Homo sapiens: one gene and its partner. The protein of the gene in region 1 interacts with the protein of each later gene in a pairwise test. Each region holds a gene or a part of one and is shown in the gene's direction. Other genes may lie near its edges.

Region 1 (7,281 bases):
GTTCTTGTAGTATATTTTAAACTAAGAATTCTCAAACTTTAAAATGGATTTCTCTTTTTACACCCCAAAATACTCTGGTATTACCTTGTGAATTCGCTTGCCATACCTGTGTCACGATGTATTAAAAAGCAGCAGCAGATTTTTCACCTTAACACGCAGAAATTTTGTGAAAATAGTTTGACTTCTTCTAGAGTAAGTGAAACTTATGCATATCATTTTCATGCACAATGGTTGTAGCCATTAGGAGAAAAATAATTATTTGGGTAATGGCTGTGGTTGCTTAATGATCTCTTCCCTATTAAAAAAATCAATTATTGTTTCTTAAATTTTCTCTATGTGGTCATTAATTCTCTGTCTTGATTTATGAGACTTCTCTGAGTTAATTATATTTTGAAGACTTGTGGGCTAAAATTTTGTATTAGAGTAAATGTAAACCTTTCAGTTTCCTAAAATAATTCTTATGAACTTCATTTTTAAAATGCATTTAAATATATTTTATAATCATTTAATAAGATACTTTAGCCTTATACATTTACAGCAATTGCCTCTTTGGGGCTGACACTTTCAGAGGCTGCCTAGAGAGACAGAACGACGACTTTGGCTTCAGCTTCCAGGTGGCCCCACACTGCCATCTGGTGGTCATTCAAATGCTTTAACTTTTCAAATTTCTGCTCTCATTTCTAGTCTTGTTCAAATAAGCATACAGCCATGATTGCTGTTGCTGTTGTTGTTGCTTTTACAATTATCTCTTTTAGAACCTCACAATCAATTAAAAGAATAAAAGTCTCCCACTCTGTTATTTGGACTAATAAGAAATGGCCTTTTATCCTATAACAGCATTGTGGACATTGGATAGATTCATAAGCACTGTTTTTGAGCAAACTGATAATAATGCCCACCCAAAGTGAAAAAGCAGCCAAATGAGAGCTAAATGGTATTTTGGCAATGTAACAGTTACATTCATTTGATTTCTAATCACATCATCCACATTCTTGCCATTGGCAGGAAGCTTTGAAACAGACTAAGGGCTTTTGAGACAGCCCAGCATCAGCACCACCTAGGAACACGGTTCAGGCAGTGGTTTACTGCAGGCAGGAGGATGGGAACAGAGGAGAGAATAACAACGACGTGCCATAAATACTTGGAAAGGCTGGTACAGTGACTGGAAAAGGCATGGCCCAGGCAGGCTGGTACTAGATAATGTGTGGGGGCCATATGGTGATAGTCCCTGGCCCGTGTCACAGGTGACAGATGTCATTTACTCACAGCAAGTTGACAGAAGAGAGTGGAAAGGAACTGAGAAATGTGACTTTCAGACTAGAGATAATGCAAAAGCTTTTCCACAATTCCTGTACAAAGCTTTTCCACCCCTGCCCCCTGCCACCTGCTTTCCCATTCATAGGAAAATTTCTTGCTGGTTCTATTGAATTCTGCCTTGGTCCAGGGAGGCAGTTCTCCCTTAATGTCTCCAAGCCCATTCAGGATTTCCAAGTCTCCTTCCTTTTGTTCAGGAGGTTTTCAGAGGTCACAGTGGTGGAACTGTAGGCTGTGGCAAGCTGCAGGTTGTCCACAAGTGACGAATTGACAGGATTTCTGCACTCACCTCTGGCTCTGCAGGCGTAATGTTGGTGGAAAAGAAAGAATGAACAAATGAGCAAATAACCACTGACTTTGACTTCATGGTACTGAAATGCAATTCAAAGTCAATAATTCTCAGAAGGGTAGGGAGGATATGCAGTTTCAGAAAGCACATTCAATATTAGAATGTAATGTCATATTTAGAAGATATAAATGTACATTACATATACTTGTGTAATTCACATTCATAAATATTTATATAATTTGTGCTTAGAAAATGAAAATATACCTATTGTTTTCATAACACAAACTTGAATAAATAACCCTCAACTAAATCTCTTTGCTTGAAAAGGTAATTTTCTAAAGGGGAAGGATAAAGCTCCTCTAGGGAGTCATATCAGAATCTCCAAGGATGAGAAATTTTTATTTTTATTAAAAGATGAGATGCACATGTCAGTCAATTAGAGTCCTCCCTAAAACAGTGCTCCTTTTATGTCTGCATTTAGAATTAAAACAAGACAATCAATATTTATGAAACACCTGTTACCTGCATTATACCTCAACAAACAACTGTTTCTAAAATACAGATCAGTTTGGGGGAGAGGGGCTGCATAACCAGAGAATCATTCAGTTTTAATGACATGCTTCCCTAATATTAAAACACAAATGGAAATGTGAAGTTAAAACATCAATTGCAAAACATTAATAGTGCCATAATAATATTTTATGCACAATTTTTAGGAAGACATCTAGTATGTGAAGTCAATCAATACTTTATGATAACTATAAATTAATTTGTGAAATGCCCTGCCATCCATTTACCTTCCTCTGAAACATATGCACGTTGAAGTAACCTTTCTAAAATACCAACTTGACAGTTTCTCCCAGCTTGCAAGTGCCCTCTTGCAACCGTCCCTTAACTTGCTTAAAACCCTTCAAGAGTGCCAGATGCAGTGGCACACATTGGTAGTCCCAGTTACTCAGGAGGCTGAGACAGGAGGATAGCCTAAGCTCAGGAGTTCGAGGCTGCAGTGAGCTATGACTACACCACTGCACTCCAGCCTGGGCAACACCGTGAGACCCTGGCTCTAAAAAAATGAAATAAAATAGAAACCCTTCGATGACTCCCTGTTGCCAACATACTTGAATCCAAACTCCTTAGTGTGGCTTAGAAAGCCTAGCATGATCTGGACTCAGCCTACATAGCTGACGTCATCTCCTGCCATTCCCACCACTCCCAACATACTCAAGTTCTAGCCACACAAAATTTCTCTCATTCTCTGAAAAAGCCGTGTTCTTTTTCATATCCAGACCCTCACAAGGCTGTGCTCTCTGCCAAGAATACTCTTTCCCTACCCCTGCCCCCGGCTCCCTGCCTTCACCTGGACAATCCCTAGGCAATCTTTATGTCTCAACTCAGATGCCACTTTATCCAAGAAGCCTTTTCTGGTCTCTCAAGTCTGAGTAAGCTGGTCTTCCTCTGCCTTCCAGAAGCACTCTGTAACTCCCCTGTCATAACACATTTCACACTATATTGTAATTGCTTGGTTACTTGTCTTTCTCCTCCATTAAAACTGTAAATTTCATGAAGATAGACACCACTATTGTGCACTACTGTATCCACTAGGGTTTGCCACAGTGTCTGGCACACAGTAAGTGCTTGATTGATTTGTGTTGAATGGATGAATGTGTATTTTCTTTAGTCGCCTCAACTTTAGTTGTCCATAATATGCTATTCTGCCTTTGTCTCGTTTCAGTCTGTGATGCTTCTCCTACACAGCCAGCGGCGTTACATCTTTGAGTATGACCAACCAGATTGTCTGCTCTCAGTCACCATGCCTAGCATGGTGCGTCACAGCTTACAAACCATGCTTTCAGTGGGCTACTACCGGAACATCTACACCCCACCGGACAGTAGCACTTCTTTTATCCAAGACTATAGTCGAGATGGCCGATTGCTACAGACCCTGCATCTGGGGACAGGGCGCAGAGTCTTATACAAGTACACCAAGCAAGCAAGGCTTTCTGAGGTTCTCTATGATACCACTCAGGTCACATTAACATATGAAGAGTCTTCTGGAGTGATTAAGACAATACACCTGATGCATGACGGATTCATCTGCACAATCAGATACAGGCAAACAGGTTTGTTGTGAAAGAGTGGTGGTGTGTACAACAACATCACTATTTTCTTATGACATTTTTACTGACCACAGTGTGAGATAGAAGCATTAATCTACACACATTCAACCCAACTTTCACTTTACTTATCAAATTATCTGACATTGAAAATGTAAAGCATGTTATAGTCTGATGAAAGCTGATTTCTTAAAAACATATAGTGCATTTCTTTCTTTCAGCTCTCAAGTAATTTGAAATCCAAGTGCCTAGTGTAACTGTATACCCATTCCTGCTCAGCACCAAATCTTCTCAAAGATGAAACGGCAAGATATAAGTCTCACTGAAACTAGCTCAAGCCCTGTGTAACCTTTATAAGCCTCAGTTGATGACAAAATATCTTCACAAGTCAGAACTTTCTAATGTATTTCACCCTTTGGGTTTATAGAATGCCCAAATCCAGTTACTTTAATGCTGGAATTTGTCAAAACCTGACCCTCTGACTTTGTAGCAAAGGTTAAATGAAATGAAAGCATTTTTGTCAGTGATTATAGCAAGAAGTATCAATTTCATCACCCTGGGCTACTGGATGTGTTATTACTTCTGTAGTTTCTATAATTAAAATTTTCTATAACTATAGAGTATTTTAATTTTTTATATTTGAGGATTACCACTATGAGAATATATATCCATGAGGTAATATGCCCAGGCATTTGATATCAGAGATCAGTCTCTAATATTGTATTATGAATATAAAAGCACCAGTACTAAATAAAATAACACTAGACCTTTCTGACTCTTCCACATTGATCGCCTAGCTTCTTACTGTTTTTGTTTTGGTTCCTGCAGGACCTCTTATTGGACGCCAGATTTTCAGATTCAGTGAAGAAGGCCTTGTGAATGCACGGTTCGACTACAGCTACAACAATTTCCGAGTCACAAGCATGCAAGCTGTAATCAATGAAACCCCTTTGCCTATAGATCTTTACCGATATGTTGATGTCTCTGGCAGAACAGAGCAGTTTGGAAAATTCAGTGTAATTAATTACGATTTAAATCAGGTCATAACTACTACAGTGATGAAACACACCAAAATCTTCAGTGCCAATGGACAAGTCATTGAAGTCCAATATGAAATCCTAAAGGCAATTGCCTACTGGATGACCATTCAATATGATAATGTGGGCCGCATGGTAATATGTGACATAAGGGTAGGAGTAGATGCCAATATAACAAGGTACTTCTATGAATACGATGCTGATGGGCAACTTCAGACTGTTTCTGTAAATGACAAAACCCAGTGGCGTTATAGTTACGATCTGAATGGAAACATCAACCTCTTAAGCCATGGGAAGAGTGCTCGTCTTACTCCTCTCCGATATGACCTCCGAGACCGCATCACCAGATTAGGAGAAATTCAGTATAAAATGGATGAAGATGGCTTTCTGAGGCAGAGGGGAAATGATATTTTTGAATATAATTCTAATGGCCTGCTGCAGAAAGCCTACAATAAGGCTTCTGGCTGGACTGTGCAGTATTACTATGATGGGCTTGGGCGACGTGTCGCGAGTAAGTCCAGCCTAGGGCAGCACCTTCAGTTCTTTTATGCAGACCTTACCAACCCCATAAGAGTTACTCATTTGTACAACCACACAAGCTCGGAGATTACATCTCTGTATTATGATCTCCAAGGTCACCTTATTGCCATGGAGTTAAGCAGTGGTGAAGAATATTATGTAGCCTGTGATAATACAGGTACCCCACTAGCTGTGTTCAGCAGCCGAGGTCAGGTCATAAAGGAGATACTATACACACCTTATGGCGATATCTATCATGACACTTACCCTGACTTTCAGGTCATTATTGGTTTTCATGGAGGACTCTATGATTTCCTTACTAAATTAGTGCACCTGGGGCAAAGGGATTATGATGTTGTTGCTGGCAGATGGACAACGCCTAATCATCACATATGGAAACAGTTGAACCTCCTTCCTAAACCATTCAACCTCTACTCCTTTGAAAATAACTACCCAGTTGGCAAAATTCAAGATGTTGCAAAGTATACCACAGGTATTTAAACTATTTAAAACTTTAAGCTAAACTTGAGTAACTCAGTACTGTTGATTTTATCACAGAATCTCAATGCCTTTGTAAATATGCTTCCTCTTCCTGACAGTTAGCCCGCAAGTTATTGTGCATTTGCTGTCTTCCTTAGTTTTCTAGAGTGAGCAAAACGTGCATGTTAACATATAATACTTTTGCATCCTACTACATTTTTTAGCTGTTTCTGTGTTTTACTCTTACAAGCTTATATGAATAATTTCGTAAAAGAAAAATTCAGGATTCTTGTTTCATCATATAAGCTGATATTATAATCCAGGGTTATCCACAAATCAACACTCTACCCTGTAGAGAGAGGATCAGGTGTTTTAGTGTGGGCCATATAAAGGGGAGTTTTAGGCTGGGTGCGGTGGCTCACACCTGTAATCCCAGCATTGGGAGGCTGAGGCAGGCAGATCACTTGAGGCCAGGAGTTTGAGACCAGCCTGGCCAACATGGTGAAACCCCATCTCTACTAAAAATACAAAAATTAGCACATGCCTATAATCCCAGCTACTCAGGAAGGAGGCTGAGGCAGGAGAATCGCTTGAACCCAAGAGGTGGAGGTTGCAGTGAGCCAAGATTGCACCACTGTACTCCAGCCTGGGCAACAGAGTGAGACTATGTCAAATAAATAAATAAATAAATAAATAAATAAATAAATAGGAGTTTTATTCCTAACTTCTATTGCCTAAACAGTTTGAAGGCAGGAGAGGTATCTTTCAAGTTTTCAACAAAGCTTATAAAGTATGGGATTTTTCATTTTCTTTTTTTAATATTGTGTCTCACAGACATCAGAAGTTGGTTGGAGCTATTTGGTTTCCAATTACACAATGTACTACCTGGATTTCCCAAACCTGAATTAGAAAATTTAGAATTAACTTACGAGCTTCTACGGCTTCAGACAAAAACTCAAGAGTGGGATCCTGGAAAGGTTAGTAAAAGTTTTATCACCTCCTTTTAGCTGAAACAACAGAAGGGCATTCAATACCCAGAAATTATATATACATATGTTTGCTTACTGATTTTTTAGTCTTCTTGAATATTCACTAAAACGTGCACAATTAATGAGAAGGTATAAAAAAAGCTCCATGAGAAAAAAGATCAGAGAATTGGAGTTTTGGGGGAAAAAAAAGATTAACAGGTTACTTGATGACTGCTGCAATAGGTACATAAGAGGAAAGAGGAACTGTACTTTAAAAATTCTGAAATGGGCTACCAAGAGCAATTATGGATTCTACCTAGAGAAAATTGTTCGGTAAGAGACACGAAAACATCAGATTTCCAACTGTAAAATAATTTAGGGGTTGATGTCTTAAGAGCATGGGAATAACAGAATAAAATTATTCTGATAAAGAAAAAATACATAAACACAATGAAGCAAAAATAATAAATATTACAAGGGTACAGTTTTGAGAAAAAATAGGAACATCAAAACATTTAAGATTCAGCAGATGATATCACCAGAAGTATGAGGTACAAATG
Region 2 (7,281 bases), on another chromosome or scaffold:
CTTTTCTTTCTAAGGAAAAGCCTGACAGTGCCCAAAGCACCATTTATTTACCAAATGCTTATGTTTTGTTTCCTCCTTTTCCTCTTGTTTCCCTGCTTTCTTCTCTTCCCTTGTTCTCTTTTACCTCTTTCCCTTTCTCAGCTTCTTCCTCCTGCTGAGAAGGCACAGCCCAAAAAGTTGACACCAGTGCAGGTTTTGGAATATGGAGAAGCTATTGCTAAGTTTAACTTTAATGGTGATACACAAGTAGAAATGTCCTTCAGAAAGGTAAGCTGCACTTCTCATGCCTTGCTTTGGGGCTCTCTTGGATGGCGCAGCTATGTGGGGAAGCGTGGTGTTGCTATCACACCCCAGTCTGGGGGTGCTGTCTGTACCCTTAAGAGAAGTATGCCAATCAATAATTGCATTAAGGGCTGGGCACGGTGGCTCATGCCTGTAATCCCAGCACTTTGGGAGGCCGAGGTGGGTAGATCACTTGAGGTCAGGCGTTTGAGACTAGCCTGGCCAACATGGTGAAACCCCGTCTCTACTAAAAATACAAAAATTAGCTGGGCATGGTAGTGGGTTCCTGTAATCCCAGCTATTCAGGAGGCTGAGGCAGGAGAATCATTTGAACCTGGGAGACAGAGGTTGCAGTGAGCTGAGATCGCTCCACTGCACTCCAGCCTGGGCAATAGGTCTCCAAAAAAAAAAAAAAGAATTGCATTAAGGCCTGTAATCCCAGCACTTTGGGAAACCAAGGCAGGAGGCTCGCTTAAGGCCAGGGGTTCAAGACCAGCCTGAGCAACGTAGCAAGGCCCCATCTCTACTGAAGAAAAAAAAAAAAAGAATTGCATTAAGGGCAATTGGAGAATTTTCTGAGGTAAGGTATTTTTAAAATAAACCCTAGGCTAATATCAGGGTTTAACTATATTGAGCTCACTGATTAAACATAGTATTTCTGGAGTCTTAGACATCTTTTATAAGCTGTTTTCAACCAACACTTACCAACTAATGATGTCATAATGCATTGTGTTGGGGACTGGGTTTTACAATATATTGGTGTGACCTAGTGGAAAAAACAGGTCCATTGATACCAGGAGAAGTTTGAAAAGCTTTGAACCCAAAAGGCACAAACCAACTACGCAGAATGTGGGAGTTAAATACTTTTTCCAAGCCACCATTTTCTTATAGAAAAAAAATGAAGATAGATGGCTCTCTCCTAGGTGGTTGTAAGAGGCTTCGGTGAAACAACTTATGTGAAGCCCCCAGCATGACACATGGTATCTTGTTGGTGCTTAGTAAACAGGAGATGCCAGTATTATTATTATCACCATCATGCTTATTCAGAACATAATTACATTGTGCAGAGAAGTTGTTCTTTCCAGAATCCAAACACTCTACATGGCAAAATTCTCTGGCTTGCTAAAGTTACTAAGTTACTGATTTTATTGAGGCTTGAGGGAAGTGAGCACATTGTTAGAAAAAGCACTGGAAGCAACCCAGTTGCCCAACAGCAGGGGATCAGTAATTAAATCATTATATGTGTGTGCGACAGAATACCCTGCAGTGGTCCATTAAGCTATGCAATGCCATTAAAAATCTAGAATTCTATTTCTTGATAAAGAAGGAGGTTTACTATGTGCTATTAAGTATTTTTTAAAAAGCAAGTTGGAAAAGGGAAACACAGTTCATACTCAATTTTTATAAGAAAAAATATGTGCAGGTTTAATTCACATGCATAGAAGTAAATCTGGGGAGTCCATATGCCAAATATTAAGTGTTTATCCCCAAATGACTATGTGATGGGTGATGATTGTTTTCTGCTTTACGTTTGTGTTCTGATTTTTCTATAATGATACATTATAAGTATCTATAATGCTACAAAAGAAAGAAAAAGTGAAACCCCCCAAAATCTTTGCCTTAGAAATGAAGATTGGGTATCTGTTTCACATTAAATGAGTCAAAAACACTACATTTGTTCCCTGGCTTAGGGACACAAATCTGATGTTCTCCTTTACTAAAATACTTAAAGAACCAAGCTGAACTTCCCAGCATCAAGATAGCTCCTCTGCCATTAGCATCCTCATCCCAGTGGTGTTAATTCCCTCCAGGTTCAGCAGGGAAGGTTTTTCCTGAGCTAAGGATGTGATAAACAATGCAGGACATTGAAGCATGCAGGCAGAGGCCCCAGGCATGCAGAGGCATGCTAGGACAAGGACCCTCTCTTTGCTGTGTCTTCCAGGGTGAGAGGATCACACTGCTCCGGCAGGTAGATGAGAACTGGTACGAAGGGAGGATCCCGGGGACATCCCGACAAGGCATCTTCCCCATCACCTACGTGGATGTGATCAAGCGACCACTGGTGAAAAACCCTGTGGATTACATGGACCTGCCTTTCTCCTCCTCCCCAAGTCGCAGTGCCACTGCAAGCCCACAGGTATCTAAGCTTCTCGTCACTGGTTTTCATACTCAGCATGTGAATTTTTGTAGTCAACAGTGCTGATGGCACACAGCCTCTCTGGGGAGGTTTTTGAGCACTGCAATTAAAAACTGTCTGCAGGAGGCCGGGTGTGGTGGCTCATGCCTGTAATCCCAGCACTTTGGGAGGCCGAGGCGGGTGAATCACCTGAGGTCAGGAGTTCAAGATCAGCCTGGCAACATGGTGAAACCCCATCTCTACCAAAAATTCAAAAATTAGCCAGGCGTGGTGGCGGGCGCCTGTAGTCCCAGCTACTCGGGAGGTTGAGGCAGGAGAATCGCTTAAACCTGGGAGGCAGAGGTTGCAGTGAGCCGAGATCATGCCACTGCACTCCAGCCTGGACGACAGAGCGAGACTCCATCTCAAAAAAAAAAAAACTGCAGGAAAGCAGACTGTACACTGGACTTTGTCTTTATGCATACAAATGGCCTTTTCCAGTGCTTGGTTGCAGATATATCTCAAGGGAAAAGGAATAGTCAAGTAATTGCTCTGGGAATAAGGTGACTAGGGAAAGAGAAACAGAGAAACAAGAGCCTTTATCAGTTGGCCCCTCTTGGGTGAAGCTGTTGGTGTGGGTACCACCACTGTGTCATAAATCCCATGGTCCAAATGCGGTCCTCAGTCATCTTGGCCAAAGTTGACCTGCAGAAGACAAAGGCTGAAAGAGAGACTTACACCTTCTCATCAGCCATATAGACCAGATCCAAAGTATTATTTGCATTCACTGGAACCAGGTGATTGGAACAAGTAACTTACAGCATCTCAGTCTCTGTGGGCTGAAAGGATATAGGTTTATAGGCGTAATAAGATGTTGGCTTTCCCAAACATTAATTATGAACAAACTTGTTTAGAAATATAAACTATTCCTAACTGATCCCCACTTTCCCAAAGCCAAGAAAATGTCAGAACCTTGAGTTCAGGGTGACACGGTGGGGGTGACATCCCTGTGAAAGAGCCTGGACAAACCACCATGTATGTTGTAAGGAGGTTGGCAGAGGAACAAGAGTAGGACCTGGGGGCCCAGGTTGACCCTGAGATGGTGCCTCTTGTCTGGTCCTCTAATTGTTTCCTCCTCTGCCACCTGCTCATCACTGACCCCAGTAGAGGGTTCTTGGCAGAAAGCATTAAACGGGCTGACCCAGGGCTTCCTGGACAGTGATAGCCGCATCCTGTTGTCTTATAGGACAGAGTGTGTGACTGGAGTGGGACATTCTTCTTTGTAAGGATGCAGGGAACTCAACTACATTTTTCACTTGACTAGCCAAGAGTGATTGTAAAACAAAACTAGTACACTACTCATACTCCTCTCTGGAAGACTCTGCTGAGCTCCCAGAGAAAATAAAACCCCAGGGAAGGGCCATGGCAGTGTGGGGCCACCTTTCCCCGTATGGTTCCGGGTCAGGGATCTGGATGCACAGGGGCTGGGTTGGCTGGGATGGGGAGCTTCCAATGTGTCCCTTTGAAAATCTGATTCTGCAAAGCAGGGCGGCCTCATCCGTCACTACTCTGACGGGAACCTCTCCCCATCTCCACACCTCTCACTGCTTCCTCCACCCCCTGCCTGCACACATCAGGATCACGCTCGCACATGCTCAAACGCACACTCACCCATCCTGGTTTCTCCCCAGATGTAACCTGAGGATTTCCTTTTTGGACACCAGAGTGTCCTTGCTCATCCTCTCCATTTCATTCCTCTTTATATACCCCTTGTGATTATTTTCCTTCTTTTTCCTTTATGCTGACACTTGTACCTTTTGCTTCTTTCTTTTGTTTTCCTCTCTTTTCTTCTTTTTAAGTTTTCCAGTCACAGCAAGCTCATCACGCCAGCCCCCTCATCTCTGCCCCACTCCCGCCGAGCCCTGTCCCCCGAGATGCACGCTGTCACCTCTGAGTGGATCTCACTGACTGTGGGGGTCCCAGGCAGGCGTTCTCTGGCCCTGACCCCACCCTTGCCTCCTCTGCCAGAGGCTTCTATCTATAACACTGACCACCTCGCCTTGTCACCAAGGGCCAGTCCCTCCCTGTCTCTCAGCCTCCCCCATTTGAGTTGGTCAGATCGTCCCACCCCACGATCAGTAGCTTCTCCACTGGCCCTACCTTCCCCACACAAAACCTACTCCCTAGCACCTACTTCCCAGGCCTCCCTTCACATGAATGGAGACGGTGGTGTCCACACGCCATCTTCAGGCATCCACCAAGATAGCTTCTTGCAGCTGCCGCTGGGGAGCTCTGATAGTGTCATCTCCCAGCTTAGTGATGCCTTTAGCAGCCAGAGCAAGAGGCAGCCATGGCGCGAAGAGAGTGGACAATATGAGAGGAAAGCAGAGAGGGGGGCAGGCGAAAGAGGCCCTGGTGGACCCAAGATCTCTAAGAAGAGCTGCTTGAAGCCTTCAGACGTGGTCAGGTGCCTGAGTACTGAACAGAGACTCTCAGATCTCAACACCCCTGAGGAGAGCCGGCCCGGCAAGCCCCTGGGTAGCGCTTTTCCAGGAAGTGAGGCTGAGCAGACAGAGCGGCATAGAGGTGGCGAGCAGGCGGGGAGGAAAGCTGCTCGGAGAGGTGGGAGCCAGGTAGGACTGCAGCATGCCGCGTGTGCACTTGGCGTCTCACTTGGCAGGGTGGGCTGCACGTCTCGCCCCTGGTCCATCTACGGAGGCCAAGTGAATGCTGGTGAGACCATTTGCTTGCCTCAGGAGCAAAGAGATGGCCCCAGAGGGAATGGGAGGACATGAATTCAGGTGCCAGGACTGGATACAGTTGGAGGGAAAGGACAGGCTATATCTGGCCACTTGAGGTCATTTGGAAGTTATCTCTACTTTGAATGCCTCCTGGCCTGCTGCAAGGGCCTCTGAGAAGGCAGACCTTCCTCACATCCCATGTATGCCTTAGAGATGACCCTCAGTTTGCTTTGACTAACACAGCTGAGAACACCAGGCTTTGGTGTGGTGTGGTTTGCTTTTATGTAAGATGCACTTTGTTTCCATAACCCATGGTGCTCTGCTAGTGCTCGGCTCTGTCAGGTCTTTGTCCTGTCTCGTGTTTGTGTGGGAGCGCGGGGCCTTTGTTTGCTATGAAACAAAGGTGTTTTGGTTCTGGAGAGGAGAATGCAGGTCTCCTGGGGCCCTGACTGACATGGGGTATCCTCGAATAGCCATGCCAGGTTTTGGGGTGAGTGTACCATCTTCTCTCTGGGTCAGCTACAAAGACCCAGAGAGCATTTGGACAAAGGTAGCCTTAGGGTGTTTTGAGACCTGAAAATTTTTTTGGAGAAATGAACTTAGCAACTAAACAAATCACAATTCTGATTTTGGCTATGCTGTTGACTACTGCGAAAGTCAAAGACTTTCGGCAACTTCTCAGAAGCAACCAGGTTTGAATGCCAGCTCCACCTCTTACAGTCTAGTGACTTGGGAGTTGCTTCCCCTGTCTGAGACTCAGTTTCCTCATCTGTAAAATGGAGATGATAGCACCTACCTCAAAGAGTGGTTGATTACAAGGGCTTATGATCCTGGGAACATGGTCAGCACTTTATAAACGGAAGCTATAGAGCCACCATCTTGGGTGATCTAGAATTGCTTCTAGAACTGAGAATATTTTTAGAACTTCCTTAGACCCAGATTGAGTTCCTGAAGATGTCTCCAAGCCATTTATTAAGTATCTAGTATGTCTGATGTCCACAGTAAATAGTGCTTAACCCTTAGGCTTGCAACCTCAGTTTCCCTTTGAGGCTGTAGTTATTCAGTCTATGAATAAGGCCTGCAGGTACCAGCCTCTGGGCAGAATACAAAGGTCATTTGTCTCTCCTCTTGAGAACCCTAAGTTCAAGGCTCCTCAAAACAAGGAGGAGCCTAGCAATATCACCAGGGCAATAATAGAGGCATGCTTGGGGGACACAGGAGCACAGAGGCTTGAGACACACTAGGCCAGACTTCCAGCTCCAGCCAAGCACATGTGGGCCCATGGGTGGGCCAGCACATCAGGAGTGGGGATCACTGAGGGTGAGCCGGCATGGGGCAGTTTATAAGAAATCAGGCTTAGCCTTTTGCTAGAAAGCCACTTAACCTCTCACATGCTAAGCAGGAGTGGAAGCAGTCCATCCCTTGTAGGGCAGTCATAAGGATTCAGTGAGGTAATTCATGGAAGTCGGTGCTTGGCATGTGCCAAGGCTCCATATGTGGGGTCACCCGCTGCTGTGGAGGGCTGTAGGAAAGCAGTAATACCTGGCAAAGGCTTTGCCTGGCCCTGGAACAGGTTGAGGAAGGAATAGAAGAGATGGTGAAGTGGCTAGTTGAAAAGAATTAAACGTTTCTGACACAGGAACAATTCTATAAACATTCTAAGTCAACCCAAGGCACCCGGGGACATCCTTATCGTCAGTGTTGAGTCATCATCCCGGCCCAATTCCAGGATCCTGTGTGTATAGGAAGTGCGCACGGTGCCGGATCTCCGAGTAAGGTTAGGGGTATACGCTTCCTGCTTCCTAAGGCAGGATAGGAGGGGAGTAGCTGGCAACACTGAAGATTATGTTGATTGGAAAGCCAGGCTTGTTGAAACTTGGTGTTCCTTTCTTGGTGGGCCTCCAGACCCCAAGTGTACCACTTCCTGTCCCCTCCCTTCCTCCTGCCCTCCTGGCACAAGCCCCTTCTCCATGGGTGTGCACAGGCTGTGGCCTGGGGCTCGCTCCCCCTTGAGAGCTGGCATTTGTGTGAAAAGGGCTGCTGCCCACACCTCCCCTTCAGCCCCCTCACTTTCCCCTCCTGTGGCTGGAGCAGGAGCTGACAACTCTGGAAACGGGGTCCTTCAGAAGGGGCTCCTGTGTC

The links.
Region 2: the proteins of TENM1 (region 1) and SORBS1 interact in a two-hybrid assay, tested with the Homo sapiens proteins (one study listed by BioGRID).

Annotation. Positions count from the first base shown.
Region 1 is NC_000023.11:124,382,119-124,389,399, reverse strand, and holds part of TENM1 (teneurin-1 isoform 1 precursor), read left to right. Parts: exon of another isoform or gene 1-1,611; intron 1,612-3,335; coding exon 3,336-3,723; intron 3,724-4,545; coding exon 4,546-5,766; intron 5,767-6,587; coding exon 6,588-6,730; intron 6,731-7,281. UniProt on the Homo sapiens protein: Involved in neural development, regulating the establishment of proper connectivity within the nervous system. May function as a cellular signal transducer.
Region 2 is NC_000010.11:95,334,271-95,341,551, reverse strand, and holds part of SORBS1 (sorbin and SH3 domain-containing protein 1), read left to right. Parts: intron 1-141; coding exon 142-267; intron 268-2,224; coding exon 2,225-2,419; intron 2,420-4,257; coding exon 4,258-5,031; intron 5,032-7,281. UniProt on the Homo sapiens protein: Plays a role in tyrosine phosphorylation of CBL by linking CBL to the insulin receptor. Required for insulin-stimulated glucose transport. Involved in formation of actin stress fibers and focal adhesions.